Linked DNA regions of Homo sapiens: region 1 is linked to region 2. The links come from fine-mapping of genetic effects on gene expression. A gene starts in region 2. The other region holds a variant in brackets. All regions are shown on one strand. Distances are between the middles of the regions.

The links. PIP is the estimated chance that this variant, and not a neighbour inherited with it, causes the effect. A credible set is the group of variants that fine-mapping cannot tell apart.
Region 1: its variant is the best candidate, but not a certain one, in a credible set for the expression of DPH7 in nucleus accumbens (GTEx, PIP 0.50).

What each region holds. Positions count from the first base shown.
Region 1 is chr9:137,602,692-137,608,196 of GRCh38, forward strand. It overlaps ARRDC1 (arrestin domain containing 1), which reads left to right and starts at 2,995. Exons shown (of 8, transcript NM_152285.4): 1 at 2,995-3,144. The coding sequence starts at 3,027. It overlaps LOC124902318 (a long non-coding RNA gene), which reads right to left and starts at 2,647. Exons shown (of 3, transcript XR_007061885.1): 1 at 2,606-2,647. RefSeq lists silencers at 2,257-3,386, 3,397-3,666. The variant T/C (reference allele first, on the strand shown) is at 2,503.
Region 2 is chr9:137,576,588-137,581,587 of GRCh38, forward strand. DPH7 (diphthamide biosynthesis 7) reads right to left here and starts at 2,338. Exons shown (of 9, transcript NM_138778.5): 1 at 2,038-2,338; 2 at 883-1,016. The coding sequence starts at 2,190. RefSeq lists a silencer at 2,024-2,433 and enhancers at 2,618-3,589, 2,684-2,743.

The sequences.
Region 1 (5,505 bases), 26 kb after region 2:
TCTTCCTGATCTGACTCTCACACCCCAAGCCAGCATTTCTCCTGCCCTGCATCCCCCAGGGACAGATACCAGACGGCTAGAGCCCCCTGCTGTGACCTAGAGTCTGCTGACATGATTCAAGCTATCTAATCCTAAACTTGCTCACACTTACCTACCCTGCCTTGTCCATTTTCACCCTGAGGAAAACACAAAAAAGGCTCTGGGTCATGCTCTCTCCTGGCTCCTCCTGACCCTGGTACTTCCCCTTCTGGCCCTGCGTGGCATGGCAGGGCCCCTCCTCCTGAGAACCACGAGTACTAAATCCTTCCTTTGTGGCACTTGTCTTCTAGTCTGTCACTTTACTATACCTGATTCAAACAAAACCCAGGTACTTTTAGGATATAGGGCAGGAGGCTGGAAGGATTGCCTGTGTGGATTCAGAAGCACTGAGTTTCCACACTTGGAGATGGAGGGAATGACAGTGAGTTAGGAGCTAAAATCACCAAGAAATGAAGATGCCGACCAGAGCGAAGGTGGTGCTGGTGATTCTGAGACCAGGAAGCTTACACATGGTAGCTCCCAGGGTGGAGAATGGCCTGGTAGTGTTAGGAAGGAGCCAGGAGGGCCCCAACCCCACCTACAGACCCAGAGGTAGAGGGATCCTGCGAAAAGATATCTCTACACCCGAAAGCTCCAGGGGAAGCCAGGTTTTCATGAGAGTGCAGCTAGAAGTATGCTTGGAGAAGAAGAGTCTAATGACAGGGCGGTTGGTGCTGGTGGTGGTTTCTGGAACACAGGATGGGTGGGAGATAGGGTCAGAATCAAGGATGTGCAGAGTCCTGTGGGGCTTAGATTGTGGCTGACCTGGGATAAAGGCCACCTGTGTTCTGTGTCCATTGTCTTCCATCTCAGTAGCTTGCAATACAGTCTGTCTGTCCCTTGCTTGAAACACTTTCTTTTTTTTCTTTTTCTGTTTTTTTTTTTTGAAATGGAGTCTCACTCTGTTGCCCAGGCTGGAGTGCAGTGGCGTGATCTTGGCTCACTGCAAGCTCCGCCTCCTGGATTCACGCCATTCTCCTGCCTCAGCCTCCCAAGTAGCTGGGACCACGGCGCCTGTCACCACGCCCGGCTAATTTTTTTTTTTCTTTTTGTATTTTTAGTAGAGACGGGGTTTCACCATGTTAGCCAGGATGGACTCGATCTCCTGACCTCGTGATCCGTCCACCTCGGCCTCCCAAAGTGCTGGGATTAGAGGTGCGAGCCACCGCGCCCGGTGAAACACCTTCTTTCTGACTTCTGGCATGGCCGACTGCCATTCGGGAGGGCTGTCCACAATCCTTGCCATCCCATGGCACCCTTCTCTCTTGTTCGGGAATTCTGCCTGTGCATAGCCTTGGCAGGAAAGTGTCTGGAGCATGGCCAGTTAGACCCACCTCCGGAAACATCGGAATCCTAAGGGAGTGAGCTGGGCCTGGGGCTTCAGGGCCTCTCCCAGCCTGGCCCGGGGGCCCCTCCAGCCTGTGAGCCCCTTTCTCTTTGCTGGGGTGCCAGACTCCTCCTCCCTGACCTGTTACCTTCTACCAACTAGGGATGGCAACATTTTAGTGCTTGACTCCCAGGCTCATGCACGGAAGTACTTGGTCCATTGGGGATCAGTGGCACCTCAGACTCTGCATGTGATGACCCTCCCACCCCCAAACCATGTGTATCTAGGTCCGTCCTCCCCATCAGAGAAGGCCACCCTCTTCACCGGCTGTCCTAGAAAAACTCGCAGCACTGGGGCCCGCACACCCACTCCGTGGTGAGCTGGTCCTTGTCGAGCGACGCCTTCCCTCTCCAGGACTACCCAACCGGTCTCTCCCGCCTTAGGTCCCCTGGGTATTTGAGTCCCACCCCCCGCGGCTCACTCTCTACAAAGGGACCCTTTAAAAAAGATAAATGGGAGTGTGTTCCTCCTGGTTTCAAGTGATCCAAGTCCTCGCCCCACCTGGCCCCCGACCCTTCTGCTGCGGACCCCTGCCCAAGGGCCTCCGCCCAAGTGTGGCTCCCTTGGGCCCACACCCCATCAGGCCAGCAAGGAGGGGGATAGCGGGGGGCGGGGCAGGTGCTGGGACTCCGGGCAGGTGCGGGGAAGGCAGGGGGCGGGGGGGGAAGGGGTTGGGCGATGCAGGTGTTGGGGGCCGGGACAGTTGCGGGGGTAGGCAGGTACCGGGAAGGCGGGAGGGCGGGCAGGTTCCGGAGGGGCGCGACAGGTGCTGGGACGCGAGGTAGGTGCGGAGAAGGTTGGGGGTGCGGGGCAGGAGCCGGGGGTGGGGGTTGAGGCGGGGCAGGTCCTACGCGGCGGAGCATCCCCGCCCAGGACGCCCGCGCGGCCCCGTGACGTTTTTCCGCGACTCGGGGTGAGGGAGACCCCTGGGCGGGACGGGCGGAGGGTGGGGGCGGAGGAGTGGGTTCTGCCCGCAGCAGAGTGCAGCGGGGAGACCTTCCCAGTCTCAGAGCTCGCCTCGGCCCCGCCCCCAGCCC[T/C]GCCCCCCGACGGAGACGCGGCGGTGACTCCCTCCGTGGGGGACGCACGGGACGCTTGCGCCTCAAGTCCCTTAAGCGGCGCCCGACGCAGCGCAGCACCTACCCAGCCGGGACAGGGCCAGGGCCGGGGATGGATGAGCGCGGCCGGGGGGCGGGGCAGGGGTGGGGCGGCCGAGGCAGGGGCGGAGCTGGGAAGGCGAGGCAGGGGCGAAGGGCGGGGGCGGGGCGAGGAGGCTGTCAGAGGGGCGGGGAATAACGAGGGGGCGGGGCCACACGGACGGATGGGGCGGGGAATAGGGGCTGGGCCGGGCCTCCGAGCGGCAGTCCGCGGGCTACGGGGCGGCCGGGGGGCTGGGCGGGGCCGTGGGGCGGGGCAGGGCCTGGGAGGGGCCGGATGGGGGTGGAGGCCGGGATTGGGACGGATGGGGGCGGGGCATAGGAGGGGGCGGGGCCGGGCCTCGGAGCCGGGACTCGCGGGCGGCGGGCGGGGGCGTCGCTGCGCGGCTGGCCGGTGAGGCCGCGGCATGGGGCGAGTGCAGCTCTTCGAGATCAGCCTGAGCCACGGCCGCGTCGTCTACAGCCCCGGGGAGCCGTTGGCTGGGACCGTGCGCGTGCGCCTGGGGGCACCGCTGCCGTTCCGAGGTGGGCGCGGGTCCTCGGGGAGGGCCTTTGGCCGCACCTGCGCGGGGCCAGGGCTCCCGGAAGCGGCTGCCGTCGCCTGGCCCCGGGTTGGGCCCGCGGAGTCGCTGTCTTCGCCGCCCGGGACTGCTGGGAAGCGGGCTCGGCGGCGCCGGGGAGGTCCGGGCGGCGCCGCCCTTCCGCGTCTGCCCTTCCTGCCCTCTCGCCGAGGGGCGGCGGGGTCCCGGCGGGGCCTGAAGCGGGTCCACTGTGGAGGACGCCCTGAGCGCGGGCGCACGCAGGCCTGCGACCCTCCCCGTCCGCGCTCGCACCTGCTGGGCTCCTTCCCGCACCCTGGCTCCCGGCGCAGGCGCTCCCGCTGCAGAGCCGCTCCTGGCGCGGGCGTGCGGTCCCGGCGGGGTGCAGACACCTGCTGCGGCTCCCTGCGCCCCCTGCCACCCGCCAGCAGGCCTCGCCGGCCCCCCGCCGAGGTGGACGCCTGGGCCTCGGGGACTGGGTATCGGGTTGCTGCAGTGGCCGCTGGCAGGGCGCCCTGGAGGTGAGGGCCGGCCCGCGAGGTGAGGCTGCCTCTGCCCGGCCCTTGGCTGTGAGTGCCGCGTCCCTGCCGGGGACTTCTCTACCTTGGCCTCCTGTGGGAACCACCTGGGCTGCTTGGCCTGTGCCACAGCCCCTGGACTTGCCGCTGGACCTTGACCGCTGGGCCCGCGCGTGGGTAACAGCACCGATTTTGTGCCTGCTGAGAACCCACAGTCTCTGTTCTGTCCTCTCAGCCTCCTGGGACAGGTGATGGTGCTGTGGCCCTGACCCTGCACCGCCTGAGGCTGTGGGGCCTCGGAAGAAGCCGGGTGGTAGGTGCTTCTGTCAGGCTCCTGGCCCCACTGGGCCTCCTGGGATGACCCCACAGCCTCCCTTCCTCTGTCCCAACCTTGAGTTTGGGGTCTGGGTGGGGGCAGGTGTGGCCGTGGCAGGGCAGAGATAGCACACACATCTCTTGGGTACAGGTGTGGTGTGTGGTGAGGCCGGCTGGATCCTGGTTGAGGGCTGTGCAGGACCCTGTCGTCCTTCCCCTGGCGTGGCCTGGGGTGAGCAGGCCATTGCTTACCACAGGGAAGGGACGGCCCCGCGGTGCGTGACTGGCCTGGGTGTGCAGGCTCCCCTGGCCTCCGGGTGGACGTGGTGGGTGGGTTGAATGCTCACGCCTGTAATCCCAGCACTTTGGGCAGCTGGCCCAAGAGCCGAGGGAGCACTGGCTGATGGTCCTACCTCACAGAGGCTGGTCTGAATGAGGGAGAAAAAGGAGGGTCGTGAGCTAAGGAGTAGGAGATGGGCCCTGATGGGCCAGAGAGCACATGATTCAGGCTGCTGCAAGTGAGGTGGGAGGGTGTACCGGGGCCCCCGGGGGTTTCCCCCAGCCCTGCCTGGGATGGGAACAGAAGGACCATGGTTTCTTTTCCTCATTCAGAGGATGCTTGTCAATCCTGCTAGGAGCCAGTAGGGAGGCCCTCAGCCCCCAGGAGGACAGCAGCCCTGCCTGGGCCCCAGAGCTTGCTCACTTACTCTGCCGATGAGTGTCGGTGACAGTCAGCACCCAGCCGTGAGGACACCGGCTGTCTAAAGGGCTGACGCGGAGGGAGGCCTGGGAGGGAGCAGTTTTCTGGAGCTCAGGCTGGCCCAGTCCAGGGCTGGGGTTCAGGCAGGACCACTTCTTGTTCTGCTGTTACTGGGATGGGCGACCAGGGCCGACAGTGGTTCTCGGAGCACTCATGGTGGGCCCGATGCAATTCTCTCCACGTGCCACGGGCCAGCCTCAGTTAACCCTCAGCGCCCTGGCAAGTGGCACGGTTGTTACTCTCATGATACAGATTTGGAAACAGGACTGGGGGAGTGGCTTACAGGTCACAGCTTCTGTGGCAGGCGTGAGTCCTTTGGGATGAGGATGAGGAGTGGGTGGGTCTTCATGGTCCAAGTGCAGGTGGTGCAAGGGAGGGGCTGCTGAACAGGTGGGAGCCCCAGCTGGAGAAGAAAGTTCCAGTGGTCACTTGAGAACGCAGCCCAGTCATGATCTTCCTTAGAGTCAGAGAGGCCTGCAGCCTCCAGCAGCTTGTCCTTGCTTGTGCATCTGAACACAGGAAACATTTTTTATTTTTATTTTTTTAATTTATTTTTTCGAGACGGAGTCTCCCTCTGTCGCCCAGGCTGGAGTGTGCCGGCGCGATCTCGGCTCACTGCAAGCTCCGCCTCCCCGGTTCACGCCATTCTCCTGCCTCAGCCTCCTTAAGAGCTGGGACTACAGGCGCCCGCCACCACACCCGGCTAATTTGTGTATTTTTAGTAGAGACGGGGTTTCACCGTGTTAGCCAGGAG
Region 2 (5,000 bases):
AACAAAAATGAGGTGTGGTAAGGCCAGGCGTCGTGGCTCACGCCTGTAATCCCAGCACGTTGGGAGGCTGAGGCGGGTGGATCACGAGGTCAGGAGATCAAGACCATCCTAATAACATGGTGAAACCACGTCTCTACTAAAAATACAAAAAAATAAGCCGGGTGTGGTGGCGGGCGCCTGTAGACCGAGCTCTTAGGGAGGCTGACGCAGGAGAATGGCGTGAACTCAGGAGGCGGAGCTTGCAGTGAGCCGAGACCGCGCCACTGCACTCTAGCCCGGGCGACAGAGCGAGACTCCGTCTCAAAAAAAAAAAAAAGAGGCATGGTGGCATCTACCTGAAGTCTGAAGTCTCAGCTACTCGAGAGGCTGAGACAGAGAATTGCTTGAGCCCAGGAGTTCAAGGCTGCAGTGAGCTATGATCACGTGACTGCATTCCAGCCTGGGCAACGGAACAAAACCCTGCCTCAAAAAAAAAAAAATTAAAAAGGATAAAAACTGGTACACCTGTATAGGGCATCTCCATTACGTTAAGGCACCACCATGGTATACGTGCTCCATTGTTGACCAAAACATAATTATGCCACACACCACTGCATTTAAATCTCAGCTCCAAAAGTGGGCTAGAGCCTACAACTGTGTTCTCAAACAAAAGACGCCCCAGGTTATGAAGTCAGAAAACTCCCATCACTTCCCCGGCTGGAACATGACAAAGGAAATAAGCCCCAGGTAAAGCACTCCCCAGGTGGAAGATAGGCGGGACAGCAAAGAAACAAATCCAAAGTTGAGATGCAATGCCTGTCTTGTTGAAGGCATCAGGCATCAGGCTTCCCTGATTGCTACTCATGACAAATTCTACACCCAGTGGGATTATCACAGTTATACCATTTCATGTCCAGGATTGCAGAAGTATCTTTTCTTTGGACCTCGACCAGAGGGTGAATAGAGTTGTTGTCATTGAAACTGTACAGGAAGAGACGGCCTAAACGGACCTGAGGCTCCTTAACTTCCATTCCACCCTACAAAAAATGCAGAGGTAGTCTCTGATTATCCCAAGACACGAAGGAACCCAAAGGATGGGAAAAGGGATCCAAGGAACTCAAAGGTTTGCCATGACTAAAGGAGTGGAATTCTGCCTGGAAGGAGAACCTCTGGTTTTCTGAGCTGGAGAAACGTCTATTAATGAGTAGGTGAACACTCCTGGACCCAGTAGAGAAGGCTCCTTCTAAACCGGCCAACAGGGACCAGCTATGGCTAGGGTAACCACAGAACCCAGTTTGCCTGGGACAGTCCTGACTTACGCCTGTTGTTCCAGTGCCCAATTTGGATCCTAATATGTACCCACCAGAAGTTAAGATATAATTCCCACTTTCTCTTTACTGTACATTCCACCCATTCCCTTGGGCCACACCTGTATATAGAAGACGTTCTGCTCTCAAGATTTTAAAGTTGGCCGGGGGCGGTGGCTCGTGCCTGTGGTGCCAGCTACTCAGGGGGTTGAGGCGGGAGGATGCCCTGAGCCCTGGAGTCCGAGGCTGCACTCCAGCCTGGGTGACAGTGCAAGACCTTGTCTCAGAAAAAAGTAATTTCTTTTTTTTGAGATGTAGTCTTGCTGTATCGCCCAGGCTGGAATGCAGTGGTGCGATCTCGGCTCACTGCAAGCTCTGCCTCCCGGGTTCACGCCATTCTCCTGCCTCAGCCTCCCGAGTGGCTGGGACTACAGGCGCCGCCACCACGCCCGGCTAATTGTTTTGTATTTTTTTAGTAGAGACGGGGTTTCACCATGTTAGCCAGGATGGTCTCGATCTCCTGACCTCGTGATCCGTCCGCCTCGGCCTCCCAAAGTGCTGGGATTACAGGCGTGAGCCACTGCGCCCGGCCGAGAACAATTTTTTTAAAAAGATTCTAAACTGTTTCCAGCCTACCTCCTGGCCAAAGGGCCAATATCCCCTCTTCATCTCCTGGGCGATTCGGTGCGCCTTTCGGCCTCAACCTCGTGGCCGGCCCCGCCCTCCCCTCCCGAAGCCGCGGCGCGCGCACCTTGTTCTGGGGGCCGGCAGGCCGGTCCTCCGGCCGCCGCAGCTGGTAGGTCCCGCACGCCAGCAGGTGCCTGCAGCCTTGCAGCGGGCACCACTCCACCGAGTCCGCGGTCAGCTCGGTGTCCACCGTTTGCAGGGCGAAACAGCCCATCATCCAGCCCTCGGGGAAGGGCGCGGAGCCGGCAGTAGAGGCGGGTCGGCGGGGCCGGGCTGGGTACTGCGCGGGGCGGCGAGGCCGGGGCCGGCCGGACGAGCGCAGAGCCCCAGGGACACCGTCAGCGCGGGCCGCCTCTCTCGCGACTCCTTCCGGGGTGCCGGGGCGGGACATCCGGCAGGGCCTTGGCCTCCGTGGACGCCCCTGGGAAGCCAGGCTCCCACGCCCCCTGTCGGCCGGCTGACCGCGGCGGGCTTCAGGCGTCAGACGCGCTGCTCCCTGCGGGGCCGTAGAGACCGAAGGCTTCGGGAAATCCGCTCCTCCACAAAGCAGGTTTGGAGACGGCAAGTTAGTGACAGAGCCGTAGGTTTGAAGCCGCCTCTGCAAAATTTCTATCACTGAGAAAAACCCCAACAGCGAGCTGCGGTAGCGCACCCCGTGGCGCCCTCCCGGTTACTCCTGGCCATCGGGCCGCGCTGACTTAACATTTAGGCTGCAGTTTCCATGACAGGCCTTGCCCCGGAATCAACGCCTTCGTAAAGCTGATGAGGAGCCCGCGCCCCACTAAGCCCAGCACCCCGAGGCCGCAGGCGCGCTCTGCCTGCCTCCTGTGAACCCGCCATGGCGGAGCTGCCCCTCAGAGACCGCCTTCCAGGGTCTTTGCTTGTCTGACACCCGTGGCTGCATCAGGACCCCCCAGAAGCGGCTCAGCAGGTGGACGGCTCCGACCCCTATGATTATCAGCACCAGTCGCCTGGCCGCCGCCCCCCTCCCCCAAAACTGCCTTTGAAAAAACCCCTAACCTAGGAGCTTTGGACAAGATGATCTGAGGACGAACTCCATCTCACATGTGGCCTGGCCGGCCCGTGTCTATTAATTTTTTTGTTTTTTTTTTTTGAGACGGAGTCTTGCTCTGTCACCCAGGCTGGAGTGCAGTGGCGCGATCTCAGTTCACTGCAAGCTCCGCCTCCCGGGTTTAAGCCATTCTCCTGCCTCAGCCTCCCCAGTAGCTGGGACTACAGGCGCGCATCACCACGCCCAGCTAATTTTTTGTATTTTTAGTAGAGACGGGGTTTCACCGTGTTAGCCAGGATGGTCTCGATCTTCTGACCTCGTGATCCACCCGCCTCGGCCTCCCAAAGTGCTGGGGTTACAGGTGTGAGCCACTGCGCCCGGCCCTAAACTTTTTTTCTTTATTGCAATCCACGGTCTGAATGTGTGCAGCGGGCAGGAAGAACCCCTTGGGCCGTTACAGGTTGAACTGTGCCCCCCAAAAAACAATGGACTGAAGACCCCAGCACCTCAGAGAGCATCCTTAACAAACAGGGGCTCTCAGAAGCAGCAGGCGTGGGCCCTGACCCAGAGGAGCAGGAGTCCGCAGAAGAGAAAGCTGATGCAGAAGACTTGCAGGGCCATTGCTGTGCAGAGCACAGGGAGGCAGGCAAGGCACCTGGCAGGGAGGAGGCGTCCGCACCTGAGGGCCCTTGCCTGCGCCTTCATCTGAGACTCCGGCCTCCAGAGCCTAGACTGTGAATTCCCGCTGCTTCAGGCTGCACAGCTCGCGCTGCTTTGTTGCGGCAGCTCCAGGAAGCTAAGGCGGACTTGACTGAAATATACGGGTGCCTGGGTATTCAGCCTCAGGGCTTCAAGCAGGGCTGTGGCTAAAGACATGGCAGAGAGCCAACAGCTCAGACCACCACAGAGACAGAGGCGCAGAAAAGGCTGGCCAGGAAGGCAGCAGGGCATTCCAAAAGGGCCTCAACCACACACCTCTGCGGGGGAGGGAGAGTGACCAGGTGCGCATCCCAACACACCACACTCCAAACAAGCTTTAGAAGCAGCCCCACATTGCAGCCATCTGGATGTCCTCACAGGACGTCTTAGATACCTGGCTACGAAGACCAAGAAGTCGGGGCCACGGAACGGGAAAGATGACCAGAGGATTGGGTATCAGGTGAGAGGGAAGCAGTGGTGGGGCCCGTCCCACCCTCACGGTGCCACCTGCTGGGGTGAGGCCTGGAGGAGCTGCCACATGCAAACCTAGAACCTGCACCGCCCCCTTCCCCAGCGTGGTGTCTCACAGGTGGGAGGCCCTGGGCGCTTCTTTCAGTGCACTTTTCTGATGAATGACTGCCAAACAAAGCAGCCCTGCTGGTCAGGGGCAACATGGCCACACCCCTGGATGCAGGTAAAGGGGACCCCTGCACTCCGTGCTCATCCTCAGACTCTATCTGAAAGCAGGCTGCCTGAGGGCACTCGGGGCTCCAGGCCTGAAGACTGCCCCAAACCCCAACCTGCTGACCCGCCATCTCTAGGGACACATATGTCCCCCTCCCTGGCAGCTTTCACCTACTCAGCAAAAAATGTCCCCAACCTTTGCAGCAGCTAAGGGGGCTTCTCAGGGCCTGATGTGGGCACATGCAGTTCTCTAAGCTCCAGGAAATCCTGCGGAGTTTGTTGATATCACCCATTTTCAGCAGTCCTGTTCTTCAGGAGCCCCCAGGGTACTGCCAGAAAAGGTACTGGAAGTTTTGCTTACAGACAAAAGCCAGCCCAGCCAGGGGCAGCAATGAGAACACACAGGGTGTCCTGGAACATGGCAGTGGAGCTTCAAGAAGGGAAAGTGTAGCAGCAACCTGTGGGACCAACACAGGGTCGGACCGGACCAGACCAGACAGGTCAGAGTCGGACTGGCCAGGCTTCCAGCTCCCAAGAAGCAAGGCCTCTGGCTGGGCGCACCTGGAGACAGGCAGGATCCCAGCCACACAGCCTGGCATGTTTCCCTGGGGCAGCTCTATGGGTACAAGATG